2 separate regions of the Homo sapiens genome follow, and region 1 is linked to region 2. The links come from fine-mapping of genetic effects on gene expression. A gene starts in region 2. The other region holds a variant in brackets. All regions are shown on one strand. Distances are from middle to middle.

Region 1 (8,000 bases), 100 kb after region 2:
TGGAGTGCAGTGGCACGATCTTGGCTCACTGCAAGCTCTGCCTCCCGGGTTCACGCCATTCTCCTGCCTCAGCCTCCAGAGTAGCTGGGACTACAGGCGCCCGCCACCGTAGTGCCCGCCACCACGCCCGGCTAATTTTTTTTTATTTTTGGTAGAGACGGGGTTTCACCGTGTTAGCCAGAATGGTCTTGATCTCCTGACCTCATGATCCACCCTCCTCGGCCTCCCAAAGTGCTGCGATTACAGGCGTAAGCCACCGTGCCCGGCCACCAATAGTTAGTCTAGTCTCTGACCCTAGTTTCTGACCCAGAGCTCTTAAGACCTTTGTAATTTCCTGACTGATAAGAGCACATCTGACAGAGAGCTGCTAAATTCCTTCAAATTTCCTGGGTGATAGGAATATCTTTTGTTCTCATGAGATGACTTCTGGATAGCCTTATGTTGGGTGCTGGTTGGCAGGGGAACCAACTATGCAATTAGAGGGCTGGAACTTTCAGTCTCACCCTCTGACCTCGGGGATGGGAAAAGGGCTGAAGGTTGATTTGATCACCAGTGGTCAATGATGCAATGAATCATGCCTATGTAATCCTCCACAGGGTTTATAGAAGCCTCCATAAAAACCCAAAAGGACAAGGTTCAGAGAGCTTTCAGACTTGTGAACCACTTACCACATGCCATGCCCTATGCATCTCTTCCAACTGGCTGTTCATCCGTATCCTTTATGATATCCTTTATAATAAATGGATAAACATAAGTTTCCCTGAATTCTGTGAGCTGCTCTAGCAAACAGATCAAACCCAAGAGGGGATGGTCTTGGAATTCACAACTTATAGCTGGTTGGCGAGATGTATAGGTAACAACCTACTACTTGTGATTAGCATCTGAAGTGAGGTATAGTCTTGTTCGGCCGTCAACCTGTGGGATCTGACGCCATCTCCAGGTGGATAATGCCAGAATTGAATTGAATTATAGGACACCCATTAGTGTCTGCTGAAGAATTGCTTGATGTGTGAGAAAAACTGCCACACATCTGGTGTCAGAAGTGTGTTCAGTGGCGCATGAGAATAGAGATAAAAAACTGTCTTTTCTTCAGACAAGCCTAGATTTTGCTGGTGAATTCTATCAAACATTTCATAAAAAATATTACCAATTGTACACAAAATTTGTAGAAAGATGAAGAAATATTTTCCCACTTATTCTGAAGCCAGCATTACTATATTACCAAAACTAAAGACATCACAAGAAAACTACAGACCAGTATCTTTCATGACCAAAGACACAAAAATCCTTGAAAAATTTTAGCCAATTGAATAGAGCAATGTGTAAAAAGAACAATACACCAAGACCAAATGAAGTTTATCCTACAAATGAAAGATTGGTTCAACATTCAAAAATCAATTAATGAGAAAAAACCAATCAATGTAATTCATCATATTAATAGACTAAAAAAGAAAAGCCATATGATCTTCTCAAAATATGCAGAAAAAGCATTTGACAAAATTCAACATCTATTCATGATAAACACTCTCAAGAAACTAGGAACAGAAGAGAACTTCCTCTACCTAAAAAATGGTATCTATGAAAAACCTACAGCTAACACCATAATGGTGAAAGACTAGATCTTTTCCTCCTAAGACTGGGAACAGGCAAGGCTGTTCACTCTCACCTCACCTATTTAATACTGCACTGAACAGTCTAGCCAATGCAGTAAGGCAAGAAAAAGGAATGAGACATATAGATGAAAAAGGAAGAAATAAAACTGTCTTTAGTAACAGACGACAAGACTGTCCATGTATGAATGGTACTGGCACAAAGTCATAAATCAACAGAATAGACTAGGGAGTCCAGAAGGAGACCTACACATACATGTTCAACTGATTTTCAACAAACATGCCAAGGTAATTCAATGGAGAAAGCAGAGTCTTTAACAAATGGTTCTGGAACAACTGAACATCCATGTGCAAAAAGTGAATGTAAACTTTTTTTTTTTTTTTTTTTTTGAGATGGAGTCTTGCTTTGTGTAGAGTGCAGTGGCGTGATCTCGGCTCATTACAACCTTCGCCTCCCAAGTTAAAGCGATTCTCCTGCCTCAGCCTCCCAAGTAGATGGGACTACAGGTGTACACCACCACGCCCAGCTAATTTTTTGTATTTTTAGTAGAGACGGGGTTTCACCATGTCAGCCAGGATGGTCTTGATCCCCTGACCTCGTGATCCGCCCGCCTCATCCTCCCAAAGTGCTGGGATTACAGGTGTGAGCCACCATGCCCGGCCTCTAAAAAAAATATCTGAGACTGGGTAAATTATAAAGAAAAGAGGTTTAATTGGCTCACAGTTCTGCAGGAAGAGTGGTGCTGGCATCTGCTTACCTCCTAGGGAGGCATCAGAAAGCTTACAATCATGGCAGAAGGCAAATGGAGAGCTCAGATTTTTTTTTTGTAGCAATGCAAGAATGGCCTAATACATAAAATTGGTACCAGGAGTAGGGTATTGTTAGAAAGATATCTAAAAATGTGGAAGTGACTTCGGAACCGGGTAATGGATAGAGGTTGGAAGAGTTTGGAGGGCTCACAAGAAGACAGGAAGATGAGAGCAAGTTTGGAACTTCTTAGAGACTGGTTAAATGGTTGTAACCAAAATGTTGATAGGGATATGGCCAATGAAATCTAGGCCAACAAGGTCTCAGATTGAAATGAGGAACTCATTGGGAAATGGAGCAAAGGTCATAACATGTTATGCCTTAGCAAACAGCTTGGTTGCATTGTGCCCTTTCCCAAGGAATCTGTGGAAGTTTGAAGTTGAGAGTGATGATTGCATATTTGGCAGAAGAAATTTCTAAGCAGCAAAGCATTCAAGATATGACTGGCTGCTCCTAACAGCTTACACTCAGATACAGGTGCAAGTAAATGACTTAAAGTTGGAATTTATATTTAAAAGGGAAGCAGAGCATAAAAATTGGGAAAATTTGCAGCCAAGCCACATGGCAAAGAAAGAAAAAGCTTTTTCAGAAGAGGAATTCAAGCAGGCTGTGGAGTAACCACTTGCTAGAGACATTTGCATAACTAAAAAAGAGCCAAATGCTAATATCTAAGACAATAGGGAAAAAGCCTCAAAGGCATTTTAGAGATTATTGAGGTAGCCCCTTCCATCATAGTTCCTGAGGCCCAGGAGACAAAAATGGTTTCATGGGTCAGGCCCAGGGCCTCACCCCTATGCAACTTCAGGACACTGCTCCCCACATTCTGGCGGCTCCAGCTCTAGCCATGTCTCAAAAAGGGCAAGGTACAGCTCAGGCTGCCACTTTGAAGAATGCAAGCTGTAAACTTTGACAGCTTCCATGTGGTATTAAGAGTGCACAGAGTGCAAGAATGGAGGATTCTTGGATGCTTCCACCTAGATTTCAGAGGATGTATGGAAAAGCTTGGCTTCCCAAGCAAAAGCCTGCTGCAGGAGTGGAGCCCTCACAGAAAACCTCTACTAGGGCAGTGTGGAGGGGAAACATGGGATTGGAGCCTTCACACAGGGTCCCCACTGGGACACTGCCTTGTGGAGCTGTGAGAAGGGGGCCACCATCCTCTAGTCCCCAGAATGGTAGATCCACCAGCAGTTTACACCCTGCACCTGAAAAAGCCTCAGGCACTCAACGCCAGCCCATGAGAGCAGCCACAGGGGCTGCACCCTGCAAAGCCACAGGGGCGGAGCTGCCCAAGATCTTGGGGGCCCACTTCTTGCACCAGTGTGCCCTGAATGTGGGGCACAGAGTCAAAAGAGATAATTTTGGAGCTTTAAGATTTAATGACTGCCTTGCTGGGTTTCAAACTTGCATGGGGCGTATAGCCCCTTTCTTATGGCTGATTACCCCTTTTTGGAATGGGATGTTTACCCAATGCCTATACCCCCATTGTATCTCGAAAGTAAGCAACTTGTTTTGATTTTACAGTCTCATAGGTGAAAGGAACTCATTTCCAGATAAGAATTTAGATTTGGGACTTAGTATCAGGGGACCTGCCCTGATAATCACGTAGGTTCTTTTCTATTTTTCCTAAGCGTCGGCCAGCTTGAGAAATAAAGGGACGGAGTACAAAAGAGAGAAATTTTAAAGCTGGGCATCCGGGGGAGACATCACACGTTGGTAGGATCCGTGATGCCCCACAAGCCACAAAAACCAGCAAGTTTTTATTAGGGATTTTCAAAAGGGGAGGGAGTGTGCAAATAGGTGTGGGTGACAGACATCAGGTACTTAACAGGGTAATAGAATATCACAAGGCAAGTGGAAGCAGGGCGAGATCACAGGACCACAGTAGGACTTTTGAGTTAATGCTAGAATGAGTTAAGATTTCGCAGGGACTATTGAGAAGGGATGACTGTATGTTGAAATGTGAGAAGGACATAAGATTTGTGGAGGCCAGGGACAAAATGATACAGTTTGAATATTTGTCCCTGCCCAAATCTGATGTTGAAAGGTAATCCCCAGACAGGCTCAGTGGCTCAAACTTGTAATCCCAGCACTTTGGGAGGCCAAGGTGGGTGGATCGCTTGAGCCCAGGAATTTGAGACCAGCCTGGGCAACATGGCAAAACCCCACCTCTACCAGAAATACAAAAATTAGCCACGTGTGGTTGCATGCGCCTGGAGTCCCAACTACTTGGGAGGCTGAGGTGGCTAATTGCTTGAGCC[C/T]GGAGGTCAAGGCTGCAGTGAGCCAAGATCGCACCACTGCACTCCAGCCTGGGCAACACCGCAAGACCCTGTCTCAAAAAAAAAAAAAAAAGGAAGGGAAAAAAATGTAATCTCCAATGGGGCCTGGTGGTAGGTGACTGGATCATGGCGGTGGTCTCTCATGAATGACTTAGCACCATCCCCCTGGTGCTGTTCTTGTGAAAATGAGTGAATTCTTGTGAGATCTGGTTGTTTAAAAGTGCGTAGCACTTCCTCTCTTTCTCTCTCCTTCACTCACTTGCTCCTGCTTTTGCCATATGACGTGCCTGCTCCCCCTTTGCTTTCTGGCATGATTTTAAGTTTCCTGAGGCCTTCCTAGAAGTGAAGCAGGTGCCAGCACCATACTTCCTGTAAAGCCTGATGAACCATAAGCCAATTAAACCTCTTTTCTTTACAATTTGCCCAGTCTCAGATGTTTTTTCATAGACATGCAAGAACGGCCTAATACACAGTACAGAATATTAAATACAGTTATGTTCCCACTTTTGGTAATATTGGCTGTCTCTGGGGAAGGAGTCTGGAGTGGCAGTATATAACCTTTTGTACTGTTTGAGGTTTTTTTGTTTTGTTTTGTTTCCACATGCCTGTATTACTTTCAATTAGAAAAAGCAAACGAAACCTATATACTGGTAAAGGAAAACTCACAAGTGTCTGGGCTAAGGACTGAGTCGTATAGGCTTGCAAAAACCTGTGTTAAGAATACAGAACACAAAAAGCCAGACACAGGGGCACTCAATAAATAGCTGGAGGAAGCAAAATATTTGGAATCAATTCAGAAGGCAGACCCTGGACAAAGAGATCTCTATCTGAGCACCAGATACTCAGCCAGCATAGCCCTTGCTTTACACAAGGAGCTAAGCTGAGACTGCTCACGTTAGAAAAGAAAGGGAGCATAAAAACCAAATATACCGGAGTCACTTTGGGGCGAGCTGTTTCTCAGCATTCCTTTGCAAGCACATTACGTGTCCTAACCTCAGCCTTCTAAGGGATGGGAGGCAAGTCCTTCCCCCAGTGAGCAGAGCCCACCCCTAGCACTCCTCTGGTGGTCCAAGTGCCCAGACAATCCTAGGCAGCCTTTCCTTCAGCCCCTCCAAATCAGAAGGAACGAAATGACCCTGACAGTCTCACTGCACTCCAAAGACAATCTCAGCACTTCAGCTCCTTTTCCACACCAAGGCTTCAGAAAAGAAAACCAAAAAGGAGAAGGTGGATCAGTAAGCAAGACCCCTTAGCAGCATTCGGTAAAAGGAACTCCCTGGGTTATGCACAGATTCTTTCAGGTGCCAAAGAAGTCAGCAGCTCCAGAATGCAAAATGGACAGAGAAGGAAAGTGCTAAAACTCAAGACAGCCTCAGAAATTTCTCTTTGTTCCCTGCTTTATTTGGATATGCCTCCCTGAAGCCAGCTAGTTGGTCCAAGCTTCCAAAAAAGTTTCTTTGGCCACTGATACTAGGTCTAGGAGCTTCTGTGCTTGGCAGCCTTCTCTGGCTGCCTCTGGATACCTGGCTTGCATGCGGCAACCATGTAGGTTATCCTTCTGCAGAAACAGGCTGTGCCACAAGGTGCAAGCTCCAGAGGCAGGATGGGAGTAAGGCAAAGCAACGGCATGGAGTAGGACTGGAGTAGGAACCAACTTAAAGGCAGAGTCCTTTCCAGGAACCCATGGTTTCCAGAGCATAGGAGAACATGACTGGCTGTGAGAGGCAGAGTTTCTGGCTCTTGGACCCCAGACCAGGCTGTCTAGGCAGTGGAGGGAAACAGGAGCACTTACCGGGGGAAGATGGCCGTCATCAAGGCTGAAGCATAGCCAGGCTTGCAAGCTCCCTCTGAAAAGTTTGCGTACTTGGTGGCTAATTCAGCAGGCCTATGGGAAGAGAAGGAAAGTTACAGCTTGCCAGGCACTGAGCACTGAGTGGGTTATTAATTCATAAGGAGCTGTAGGTGTTTAACCCTTTTTTTTTTTTTTTTGAGACGGAGTCTCGTTCTGTTGCCCAGGCTGGAGTGCAGTGGCGCAATCTCGGCTCACTGCAAGCTCCGCCTCCCGGGTTCACGCCATTCTCCTGCCTCAGCCTCCCGAGTGGCTGGGATAAGGTGTTTAAACCTTGAATCAAGTTTCATTCCCTACAATCAGCACTTCAGGCACTTTTCCACATTAAGGCTTTAAGGGTAAAAACAAAACAAATCCCCAACCCTAAAGGAATAGATAGATAAATAAGTCAGGCCCCTGGATGGTATCTGTAAAAGGAACTTAACTGGATTCTCACAGATTTCTTTTTAAGAGACAGGGTTTCATTATGTTGCCCAGGCAGGTCTTAAACTCCTGAGTTCAAGCGATCCTCTCGCCTTGGCCTCCCAAAGTGTTGGGATTACAGGCATTGAGCCACTGTGCCCAGCTCAAACTCATAATTCTTTGCAGGAAGCCTGAAACCAAGGAAACGAGGAGCTCTATCAAGGCTCCAATACCCGGGGGAGTGGTGCTTGGAGTTCATAGAATACAGCTACTCAGGCTTTGATACTCAGAGCCCCTGGCCTTTCCACCTTCCTTGTATGTTCCTACATGGCCAGCCTCATCTGCTTTTATTCTCTCCACTCAGGCTATGATCCATCCAGTGGGAACCATTCCCCAGTAGTGGGAACTGTCCCGAACAGTGACCGAATATAGACACGATAAATTATGTCACTGGGGCTACTGACATAACCATTAGACTTTTAGTTGAGGATGGTTTCCTCTCTCTGCCTGGAATGTTATTCCTTGTCCTTCTTCATCTGGCTAACAACTATTGGTCCTTCATGATTAAGCTTAAATATCAGCTTCACTGGGAGTGATTCCCTGACCCTCGGATTGGGCTAAGTGCCTCCTCTGTGCTTGTATAGTCACTCCCCCTTCCCCTCACATCATATACTTACCCCCAGCACTTGCTATTCTGTATTGTAATTTTTGGTAGTATGTCTCCCTTGATACACTGTAAATTCCTAAGGTCAGAGGCTGATTTAACCCTGCCTACCCTCTCCAGTGCCTTGCATAAATGGGCACAAAGAAGACCCCTAAAACTTTCTTAAGGAACAAAATGACCCTGACAGTCTCACGGCAGACAAGGCAATCTCAAGGAACCCACAAGGCTGAGACTGCTACATATTTTTCAGAAGACTTGTGTTCTAATCCTGGCCTGTTGCTGTGTGACCATAATCATGCCACCTCACATCTTTGGGTTTCAACGTCTTATGCGTTCAATGTGGGTCTGGAGTCACTGCCCTGCCACCAAAATCTCTGCACTATGCAGTCTA
Region 2 (10,261 bases):
CAGGTCATGGGGCTGGAGGGTCACGGGAGAGAGAGAGCCCTTCGTGGTTACGGAGGCGTCCAACGAAGCGCGGAGATGCAGCTCCGCTAGTCTAGGGCGAAGAGTCCGTGGAGTTGAGGGGCTGTGGCAGGTCCCTTCCGTTCGGCCTGGCCCGCGCTGTGCTCAACGCCCGGCTACAGCCCCGCTACAGCCGCTGCCTCCGCCCCAGTGACTGACAAGACAAGCCAGGCCGGCCGGGACGGGGCAGGGACCTCGGCAAGGCGCGGGCTGCCCCGAGCGCCTGTCCCCGGCACCTCCAACTCAGGCCCCCACTCCTGCCAGTTCTGGCTCGGCACGGCCCGGTACAGGCCGGCACGGCCCAGCGGAACTGCGCGGAAACTCATTCCGGGTCCTTAGCCCTGTCCTCGCGCCAGCTCGCACTCCCCTGAGCAGGCGGTGGAGCGGCTCGCCGCCCCAGGCCGCGGCCGAGTCTAGGCCCCGCCGCTGTTCACCCTGGGAAATGTAGTCCGTGTTGCGCCTAGCCGGAAGGCGGCGCCCTGCGGAGGAGGCCGGGAGCACGTGGGTTGGGGACCTGCAGAGCCCCGCCTGTCCTCGGCCTACCGCGGCGAGCAGGCATTCCGGGTCAGACCGGCGCGGGGCGCTGCGGCCCAACTCCTTAGTAGGACGACGTGACTCGAGGGGCCGGAGGACGGAGGTGGGAGCCCGGGCTAGAGGGTGGAGGCTGGGGAGGTTGCCTGGTCACTCTGGCGCTCCGCTGCCGGGGGCATCCTCCGGCCCAGCAAAGGTGCAGCCTGGGAAGAAGGCGTCAGCACCACCCAGAGAAGAGGAGAGGGGACTTGGCACGCCTCAGGAAGGAAAAAAGGAAGGCTCTCGGGACCACCCAATAAGCAACCGGGAAACCACATACCATGGACAGTGCTCGGGGAATTTCGTAAGGTTTTTGGAAGTAACTTTATGTGTAACTAGAGTAAGAGTAGCTTACATTTAAGTGCTAGGAGCAGGACTTTGCTTACCTTAGGTTCAGTTTTCTTAATAGCTCTGAGGTGGATATTTTTATTCATCATTTTCAGATGAGATGAGGAAATCGAGCTTGGGGAAAGTTAGGCTTATCTTGCCCCTGGCACACAGACAGGGTGGCAGACCATGCCATAGATCTGGTCTGCCACAGGCCCCGGTAGTTCCTGCCTGTCACCCCTCCAGTTGTATTTTATTGTTTATTAACTCCTGCCAGCTACCCTAGCAGGGAAGAGGAAAAAATTAAAAGTGCAAAGAGCTCCGTAGTTTTGTTCAAATGGAGGAAGCTGGCATTGGAAGCTGGCATTGGCAGCAGCTGCTGAGGCCTGAGAAGGTCCATGAAGGCTTCCCTGAGAAGAGAAACTTGATCTGAGCTTGAAGAATAGAGAGCCTGGGAAGGAGAGGGGCCCATTTAGCTGGTAAGCAAAATCCAGTAGGACTCTAAGTCATTCAGCAAGTCTTCATCAATAAAGAATAGCAAGTAGGCCGGGCGCGGTGGCTCACGCCTGTAATCCCAGCACTATGGGAGGCTGAGGCGGGCGGATCACGAGGTCAGGAGATCGAGACCATCCTGGCTAACACGGTGAAACCCCGTCTCTACTAAAAATACAAAAAATTAGCCGGGCATGGTGGCAGGCACCTGTAGTCCCAGCTATTCGGGAGGCTGAGGCAGGAGAATGGCTTGAACACGGGAGGTGGAGCTTGCAGTGAGCTGAGATCACGCCACTGCACTCCAGCCTGGGCGACAGAGTGAGACTCCGTCTAAAAAAAAAAAAGAAAAGAAAAGAAAGAATAGTAAGTAATTTATATTCATTTTAAGAGAATATATGTGGGGTGGGGAAGGGGAAGGGTATGAGTAACAGAGATGAGGTTGGAAAGACAAGTTGGTGGCAATAGATTCTTGTAGGAGTTTGGACATTATCCTAAGTGCAATATGAAACCATGATGGGGTTTCAAGTGAGCAATGATGATTACATTTGCATTTTAGAAAAATCTGCAACATGAAAGACAAATTGAAGGAAGAAAGAGAGGCAGGAGACATTTGGAAGGAGGAAATAGAAAGCCAAAATAAAGTAACTGATTCCAGGCCTGTGCCTAGGGTGTGAAATACCTTGGGCCTGGTGCTGGCTGGCGGTTTCACTGGTGGAGGTGGTGGTGGGCAGGGGAGATGGTGTTGGGAGTGGGGTTTAAATGCACAAATTCTGGACTTAGTCCTGAGTTCAAAACCTGTTTATGCCTCTTTCTAGCAATGAGACCTTAGCTTCTTCTGAAACTCATTTTAGTTAAGGGGTTTTAGGGGTGGGGGGCTCAGCCCAGAGACCACAACTTAGTCAGTATGTGTTTTCTTCCTGCTTCCCATCCAGGGCTCCTCCTCATCCCTGGAGGTTCCAGGGATCTGGCAGAGAAAGAAGCCCAGTCTCACAGCAATGACTCCTGAACATCCTTTGCAAACACTATTTAGGACAGATGGACTGAAGTAGGCCCTGGGGAGAGTTGGGGGCATTTCCGGAGGCCAGACCAAAGGTGATCTCCAGGAGATTTGGATGTTAGTGCAGGATAGCTCAGAGCCAAGTGGCAGATAAGTCTTTGGGAGCCAGAAGGGCTCTTTCTTCTCTAAGGAACAAGTGTAGACCTATAGGGGCAAGAACCTGTGGCAACCCTGGGAGAGGTCTGCAGATTCAGGAGGGAACATCCCAAAACTCAGCAGAGGAGGAGAGGGAGCTTTTGTTGGTCACCTGGAACCACTACCAATCCATGTTCATGTCAAATTAAATGATCACTTTGAAGTTTTTCAGCCTACCAAAATCATGTGAATTTGGTCTGCAAAACCAGACGACTGCCTGCTTGCAGTTAAGAATTCTCAGCGGGAGGCCGGGCGCAGTGGCTCATGCCACCAGCACTTTGGGAGGCTGAGGTGGGTGGATCACGAGGTCAGGAGTTCGAGACCAGCCTGGCTAACACGGTGAAACCCTGTCTCTACTAAAAATACAAAAGTTAGCCTGGTGTGGTGGCGGGCACCTGTAGTCCCGGCTACTTGGGAAGCTGAGGCAGGAGAATCTCTTGGACCTGGAAGGTGGAGGTTGCAGTGAGCTGAGATCGCGCCATTGCACTCCAGCCTGGGCAACAGAGCGAGACTCTGTCTCAAAAAAAAAAAAAAAAGAAGAAGAAGAAAAAAAAGAATTCTCAGGGGGAGATTATTCCCCTTTCTTAGTACCAAGGTTGGATGTAGGCAGTTTTCTTTGTAGTCCCCTGGTTTGAGGGAGAGAGGTTAGGTCAGACAGGGGCAGGTTTCTTTCTAATTCACCTTCACAGTGTAGGCATACACTGGCCTTTGAGGTCCTGGCCTTATGGAGAAGTTTCTAAATAGACTCCCCATGGTGAGGGGGCCCTGGGCTTTGTCTTTCTCATAAGCCCAGAGACCCCTTGAAAACCAATGATCAGGTTCTCTGGGTTCGGCAACTGCCCTCAAGATGAAAGCCAATGACAGAGCTTTGCTTACCTTTGTAGCTTCTTGCTTTCATTTACTTTTTTGGCCTCAGTGTGTTTCTTACATTTTTGCTAGCTTATGGATGCATTTAATTTTAAAGATAGATAGAGTCTAGTATTTAAAGTTGTTTTCAGGAGGAAGTTTAGCCCAAGTCCTTAGGCCACCATGTTGCAAGAAAACCTAACGGGCAGTTTTCGGTTCTGATGCAGCTTGATTTTTGTGCTGCATCTGGCCCTATTGACCAGTCCCTCAGCTCTTCTGTTTGGTTTTGTTTTTCCCGACACTCTGACTACTCCTTTTTGGTTTCCTTCACTGGCCCATCCCTGTTCCTCCACCTGTTCCTTAAATGTTGGTCCTCCTTAGTCTCCGCTTCTTGTCTTATGCCTCATTATCTCACCACTCCCCTGGCTTCAAGCTGTGACTCCTTGGATTTCTCCAGCCCAGACTGTCCTGGGTTTCAAACCTGCATATTTAGCTGCCTCCTGGCCCTCTGAAGTTGCCACAGGCACCCAAAGTTGAACATGTACAAAACTGAACTCACATTTTCCCCACATCTTACCCCTATCACATGCTAAAATACTACATCCCCTGTGTTCTGTACCAGTCCCCCAAGCTAGACACCTGGAAACCATCTCTCATCCAGCCCTCACCTCTCTTATTGTCCCTCACATCTCTTCTGTCCTTGCACATTTGCTTCTGCCCTAACTCAAGGTACCTGTGCTTGTTGCCTGAACGGCTCTAACTATGGCAGCTCTAGCTGGCACCCACCTTGCCTCTTCCATCCATACTAGACACAGTAGCAAGTGATCCATCTGAAACACATCTCTAACCAAGCCCACTTAAAACCCTTTAGTGGCTCCTTTCAGAGCGAAGGCTGAGCTTCTCGGTATAACATTCAAAGCCCTTTGTGACCTCTCCAGTCTTTTGTCTTGATGAGGACCCTCCCCAAGTCCACCTGAAGTTGCTGGCAATCCTGGGAGCGCACCAGGCTGTTTCACACTTCCCTGTCTTTGTTCATGCTACTTCCTCTGTTGAGAAGGCTCTGTGTCATTCTGGATGCCATCAGGAGAGAGACATCACACAGTCAGCAGGCAGGGAAAGTTCAACATAAGCATTTTGAAGTGTAACAGGGAATTGAAGCTGTGATGAACTGGCTAGTAAGAAGTAAATAAATAAATAAATAAACAAATAAAAATCTAAAGAATATAGGACTAGCAGAGTCTTCAGGCTGAGATGGAGAGCCCAAGGAAGAGGCCCTCACCTCTCCACTCCATTCCTGTCCAGGGCTGAGAACCACACCGTGCAGGACAGGACATGGCCACAATGAACAGTGTACATTTAGAAGTGAGAGGAAATAAAGGCAATCAGCAATAACCAGTTCGGGTTCCATGCCTCTCATCCACCCTATAATCCACCCTGTGCAAACAAACTCATTTTTCAAGACTCAGTTCAAATACCACCTTTTCCACAAAGACTTTTCCTCTTCTGCGTCTATCCAGGAAAAAACTGATTCCTCTTCCTTTGTGATTGTAGAATCTGCCCCCTCCTTGACACACATACCTATAACCTCAGTCATACTTCTACTGGGGTACTTGTTTACCCCTACCTAGGGTTGCCAGAAAAAAATCAGGACACTTATTTATTTTTTTTTTTTTTGAGATGGAGTCTTGCTCTGTCACCCAGGCTAGAGTTCAGTGTCACGGCTCACTGCAACCTCTGCCTCCCAGGTTCAAGCAATTCTTCTGCCTCCTGAGTAACTGGGACTACAGGTGTGCACCACCATCCCCGGCTAATTTTGTATTTTTAGTAGAGACAGGGTTTCACCATATTGGCCAGGCTGGTCTCAAACTCTTGACCTCGTGATCCGCCCACCTCGGCCTCCCAAAGTGCTGGGATTACAGGCATGAGCCACCGCACCTGGCCATCTATTTAATTTTGAATATGAGATAAACAACAATTTTTTTTTTTTTGAGATGGAGTCTCACTCTGTCGCCTAGGCTGGAGTGCAGTGGCACGATCTCAGCTCACTGCAAGCTCTGCCTCCCAGGTTCACACCATTCTCCTGAGTAGCTGGGACTACAGGCGCCCACCACCACGCCCAGCTAATTTTTTGTATTTTTAGTAGAGACAGGGTTTCACCATGTTAGCCAGGATGGTCTCGATCTTCTGACCTCGTGATCTGCCCTCCTCGGCCTCCTAAAGTGCTGGGATTACAGGCGTGAGCCACTGCTCCCAGCCTTTTTTTTTTTTTTTTTTTTTTTTTGAGATAGAGTCTTATTCTGTCACCCAGGTTGGAGTGCAGTGGTACGATTTTGGGCTCAAGCAATCCTTCCACCTCAGCCTCCCAAGTAGCTGGACCACAGATGCACGTCACCACACCTGGCTAAGTTTTTGTATTTTTGGTAGAGACAGGGTTTCACTATGTTGCCCAGGCTGGTCTTGAATTCCTGAGCGCTAGCGATCCACCTGTTTCAGCCTCCCAAAGTGCTGGGATTACAGGGGTGAGCCACCACGCCCAGCCAATTTTTTTGTATAAGTATGTCTCAATTATTGCATTGGACATACTGAAAACAAGTATTTAGGCCAGGCATGGTGACTCGCACCTGTAATCCGAGCACTTTGGGAGGCCAATGTGGGAGGATCTCTTGAACTCAGGAGTTCGAGACCAGCCTGGGTAACATAGCAAGAGCCCATCTCTACCAAAAAAATAAAAATTAAAAAAATTTAAAAATTAGCCAGTCGTGGTAGAATGCACCTGTAGTCTTAGCTAGTTAGGAGGCTAAGGTGAGAGGATCGCTTGAGCCCAGGAGGTGGAGGTTGCAGTGAACTGAGATCACACCACTGCACTCCAGCCCGAGGGACACAGCAAGACCCTATCTAAAAAAAAAAAAGGTGTATTTATTGTTTACCTTAAATCCATTTTTTTTTTTGAGACAGAGTCTCACTTTGTCGCCAGGCTAGAGTGCAGTGGCACAATCTTGGCTCACTGCAACCTCTGCCTCCCGGGTTCAAGCGATTCTCCTGCCTCAGCCTCCCAAGTAGCTGGGACTACAGGTGCGTGCCACCACGCCCAGCTAATTTTTATATTTTTAGTAGAGACCGGGTTTTACCATGTTGGCTAGGGTGGTCTCACTCTCTTGACCTCATGATCCGCCCACCTCAGCCTCCCAAAGTGCTGGGATTACAGGCATGAGTCACCACGCAGGGCCTGAAATCCAAATTTAACAGGATGTCTTTTACTTTTATTTGCTACCCTACCCCTACTTCCATCTCCAAGTATAGTTTCCTTGATGGCAAAACATGTTTCTCACTGGTCTCTGAATCCCTGAAACTAGCCCAGTGCACGACAGTTCATGCTCGGTTAATATGAAGAGAAGGCAACTTATCTGGCTGCAGCGCTGAGAATGGTTGGAGGGAGTTGTGACTGGAGACAGTGAGACCAGGTAGGAGGATGAGGAATAAACCATCCAAAAAATTATGAAGGCTTCAGCAGAATAGCACTGGGGATAGGGAAAGGGGATGGATCTGCAGGATCTAAGGATTTGGTGACCAATGCTTAAGGGACATGACAGAGCTTAAGGAGCCTAGGAGATTGCCCAAGTTTCTGGCTGTGTCACTGGATGAGGTTGGTGCACTCACTGAGCAGGGAACACTGGGGAGGGTCTGGAAGCTGGACAGCAGGGAAGCTCATTGATGTGAGGAGCAGAGCAGGCTGGAGAAGGGTGGACAGCAGATCTGAAGGAGGAAACGGAAGACATCCAGTATGGATATGTTAAGCTTGATGTCTCCCAGGATATACAGATAGAGGTATTGGAATTACAGACTTGGGGCTCAGGTGAATGTTCTAGGCTGGAGATAAAATGTGAGCATGGTTAGCATGGAGGTGGTAACTGAAACCACGGGAGTAGACAGTGCTGCTCAGGGAGAGAGTAGAATGGGAAGAGGAGAGAGAGTCGGTATCAGAGCTCTGAGGAACATGAGAGGCAGAGAGAGGAAGAGGAACTCAGAAGTCGTCTGAGAACAAGCCTCTGGAGGAGTGGAAGGAGAACCCGGAGAGTATTGGACCAAGAGAGTCACGGGAAGACAGGTTTTCAAGGAGGACTGACACTATCGAATGCTTCTGAGACTTCAAAGGACTAAATGGCCTTTGGCTTTAGTATTGACCAGAGTCACCTGTGGCCCCAGGAGCTACAATGTGCCACCTGGTGACAGGTTATAGCTACTATGTGGTAAACAGAGGTACAGCTCTGCAGCCTGTTTCCTTTGGGGAAAACAACCTTTTCTTTCTTGCTTGCTTCTTGCTTTCTCTCTCTCTTTCCCCTTCCTTCCTTCCCTCTCTCCCTCCCTCCCCCTCCCTCCCTCCCCTCCTTCCCTCCCTCCCCTCCCTCCCTCCCTCCCCTCCTTCCTTCCCTCCCCTCCTTCCCTCCTTCACTGTCTTCCTTTTGATTTGGGTTGTCCTGAGTTGCAAACTGAGGCTAATTCATATGGGAATGTGTTCTTGGAGCTGTTGCTGTCTTGTTCCGGACTCTGAGATGTTGAGCACAAGCTGTCTGGGGCCCAGAATGCAGCCTCCAGCTGGGGTGAGCCCTGTTCCCTCAAAAGCTGGCAGCCTGGGGAATGTTGACAGCCAGCACCTTTGGCTTGGGCTGTGGCCCTCTCACTGTGAGCATTGTCAGAGATGGCTTCAGTCAGTCTCCTTTACTGGCTCTGGAGCAGCCGTGTCTACTGAGTGGCAGGGTTTGGGGACTAGGCTAGGCTTTAAAGTCTCACTAGCAGGGGGCTGCCTGGCCCCAATAACCCTGGAATTGACAGAATGTCCTTCTCTGCCTGCAGCCAGCCCTCTGTAAACTGTATGGCCCTGGGGCCATTTTCTTTGCAGGAGGGAAGGTGGAACTAAGGATCCCGAATCCGTTTGGAGGCAGAGAGGGGCCAACAGGGTGTTTGAAGGGAGCAAAGGCATCGAAATTTTTGGAGCATCTAGAACTGGGGCAGTGAATGCAGAAGAGTGGGAGCACACACACGTTTCTCCTCCTTGACCCAGAATGGGCACAGCCTTCAGAGAGCTCTTGCCAGCTCCTCACTCTAGCCTGGGTGAAGGGGGCATCTGTGCCAAAGCAGGAAGGCACACAGGCGGATTGGAAGGAATTTCTCTCAGCAGCGTCAAATGCCTGAGGGATCTCGCCCTCGACCCTCTCCATCTCTCATGGTACTCTCATTCACCCCCGGCTGCAGCTCCTGCCTCTGTGCTGACAGCTGTCACATCAATCCAGCCCAGACCTCCCTCGGCAGCTCTAGACCAGCAGATCCCACTGCCTCCTGACAACCCCTCTGGATGTCCCACAGTTCCTCAGACTTAGCATCCTTTCCAAATCCATGCCCCCATCTCATTTCCAAAAAAGAAAAATCATAGAGGCCTCCCCAATACAAATGCATAGGACATGGGAAACAAGGTTTGAAAGGATATCCAGAAAAGCTTAGGGATAGCCCTGGCCTTTTGGAGGTGACTTGGGGGTGGTATGAGAGGCCAGAGTCAGCAGTAACTTCTCCTTTCTTCCCCACGAAGGTGTGGACTTCTTAGCTTCCTGTCCTTTTCGTACCATTTGCCAAATTGAATTTAAATAATTATTACTGTAATTGCTTACTTATTGTCTGTCTCTCCTGGTTGAAGCTTCTCAAGGGCAGGGATCATGTCTGTTTCACTTCTGTATCCTTGGCATCTGTCATATAATCAGTATCTGACATATAATAGGTGCTTAATAAATATTTGTTTGAATTAATGAATATCCTTGTTCATCACCCAAGATGCAGATCCTGCTGGGGCCCTTATCTTTTCCTGCCTCCTTATCCACATGGAGCTCTGTGCTTTGCTCACCGGAGCCAGCACCCCACCGCACCCTCTACCAACCCTCGGTTTTTTTCAGATGCCCTCATGCCCTGGGCTGCTTCATGGAATGTGGATAGTGAGTTAACCATGCTGGCCTGTCTGCAAGCAGAGGCATGTGTATATCTGACAAGGCACCCTCAAGACAATTCCCTGGATGGTAAGACACTGATCAATGACAGTGGGGTGGGGCAATGGGTGCTTCTCTGTGTCTTTACCCACTAAGCGGGGGCCACAAAGATGCCAGAGGTCACAGAGACAGGGCTTTCTCCACAGAAGCCTCTGTAGTCTCTTTCCCCAGAGGTAAGCCCAGGCCCAAGTGAGCAGCCTGCCAGGACTAGTGACTGCACCCTTGCTGCCCGCCCTGCCCCTGCCTGTGTTCCATGCCTCCCATCCCGGAGCTGCTGGGTGGGGGCCGAAGATCCAGGCCAGGTCTGTGATTGCTGAGTCAGCCTGAGGTGTGTGAGTGCGATCAGCAAGGCATGATCTCCATCCAGCCTCTTCTTCCCAACCCCCTGCTGCCCAGGAAAGGATCTGACAAGCCACAGAAGTAAATAAATAACTTAGAAATAATAAATAGGGGCCAGCTCCCATGAGTGAGTACAGGCCAGTTCCAGCACAGGCACTTTCAACCAAGCAACTGCAATATGTGTCCTTCAAATGCTGTCCCTACAGGGCCTGGGCGGGGGCTGATGCCTCAGCCACTGTAGTGTTCATCAGAGGAGGGGTCCCAGGTTCGAGGCCTGGCCAGTGCCAGAGTCTGTGAGAAGTGGGTCCGAAGGGCTCCATAGCTGAGGTCTCTGGTGTCTTTTAGGCTGGGATCCGCAGGGTGAGGGCTCTGGGGCTGCTAGTCAGTTGTCCCTTCACCTGTTCGGGGA

Which allele goes with the higher level. Positions count from the first base shown, and alleles are read on the strand shown. Sizes are in standard deviations (SD) of each study's normalised expression.
For the expression in spinal cord of the gene that starts at base 6,634 in region 2, allele T in region 1 goes with a higher level than allele C (large effect, 1.0 SD a copy in GTEx).

The links. PIP is the estimated chance that this variant, and not a neighbour inherited with it, causes the effect.
Region 1: its variant is fine-mapped to the expression of LINC02918 in spinal cord (GTEx, PIP above 0.99).

What each region holds. Positions count from the first base shown.
Region 1 is chr1:43,836,798-43,844,797 of GRCh38, reverse strand. ST3GAL3 (ST3 beta-galactoside alpha-2,3-sialyltransferase 3) reads right to left here. Exons shown (of 12, transcript NM_006279.5): 5 at 6,487-6,579. MIR6079 (microRNA 6079) reads right to left here and starts at 6,176; the gene lies at 6,115-6,176. RefSeq lists enhancers at 2,139-3,127, 3,128-4,116. The variant C/T (reference allele first, on the strand shown) is at 4,677.
Region 2 is chr1:43,936,914-43,947,174 of GRCh38, reverse strand. It overlaps LINC02918 (long intergenic non-protein coding RNA 2918), which reads left to right and starts at 6,634. Exons shown (of 2, transcript XR_947283.2): 1 at 6,634-6,945; 2 at 8,382-9,279. It overlaps ARTN (artemin), which reads right to left. Exons shown (of 5, transcript NM_057091.3): 5 at 9,935-10,261. LOC101929609 (a long non-coding RNA gene) reads left to right here and starts at 576. Exons shown (of 2, transcript NR_188535.1): 1 at 576-694; 2 at 2,379-2,820. It overlaps IPO13 (importin 13), which reads right to left and starts at 225. Exons shown (of 20, transcript NM_014652.4): 1 at 1-225. RefSeq lists a silencer at 180-429.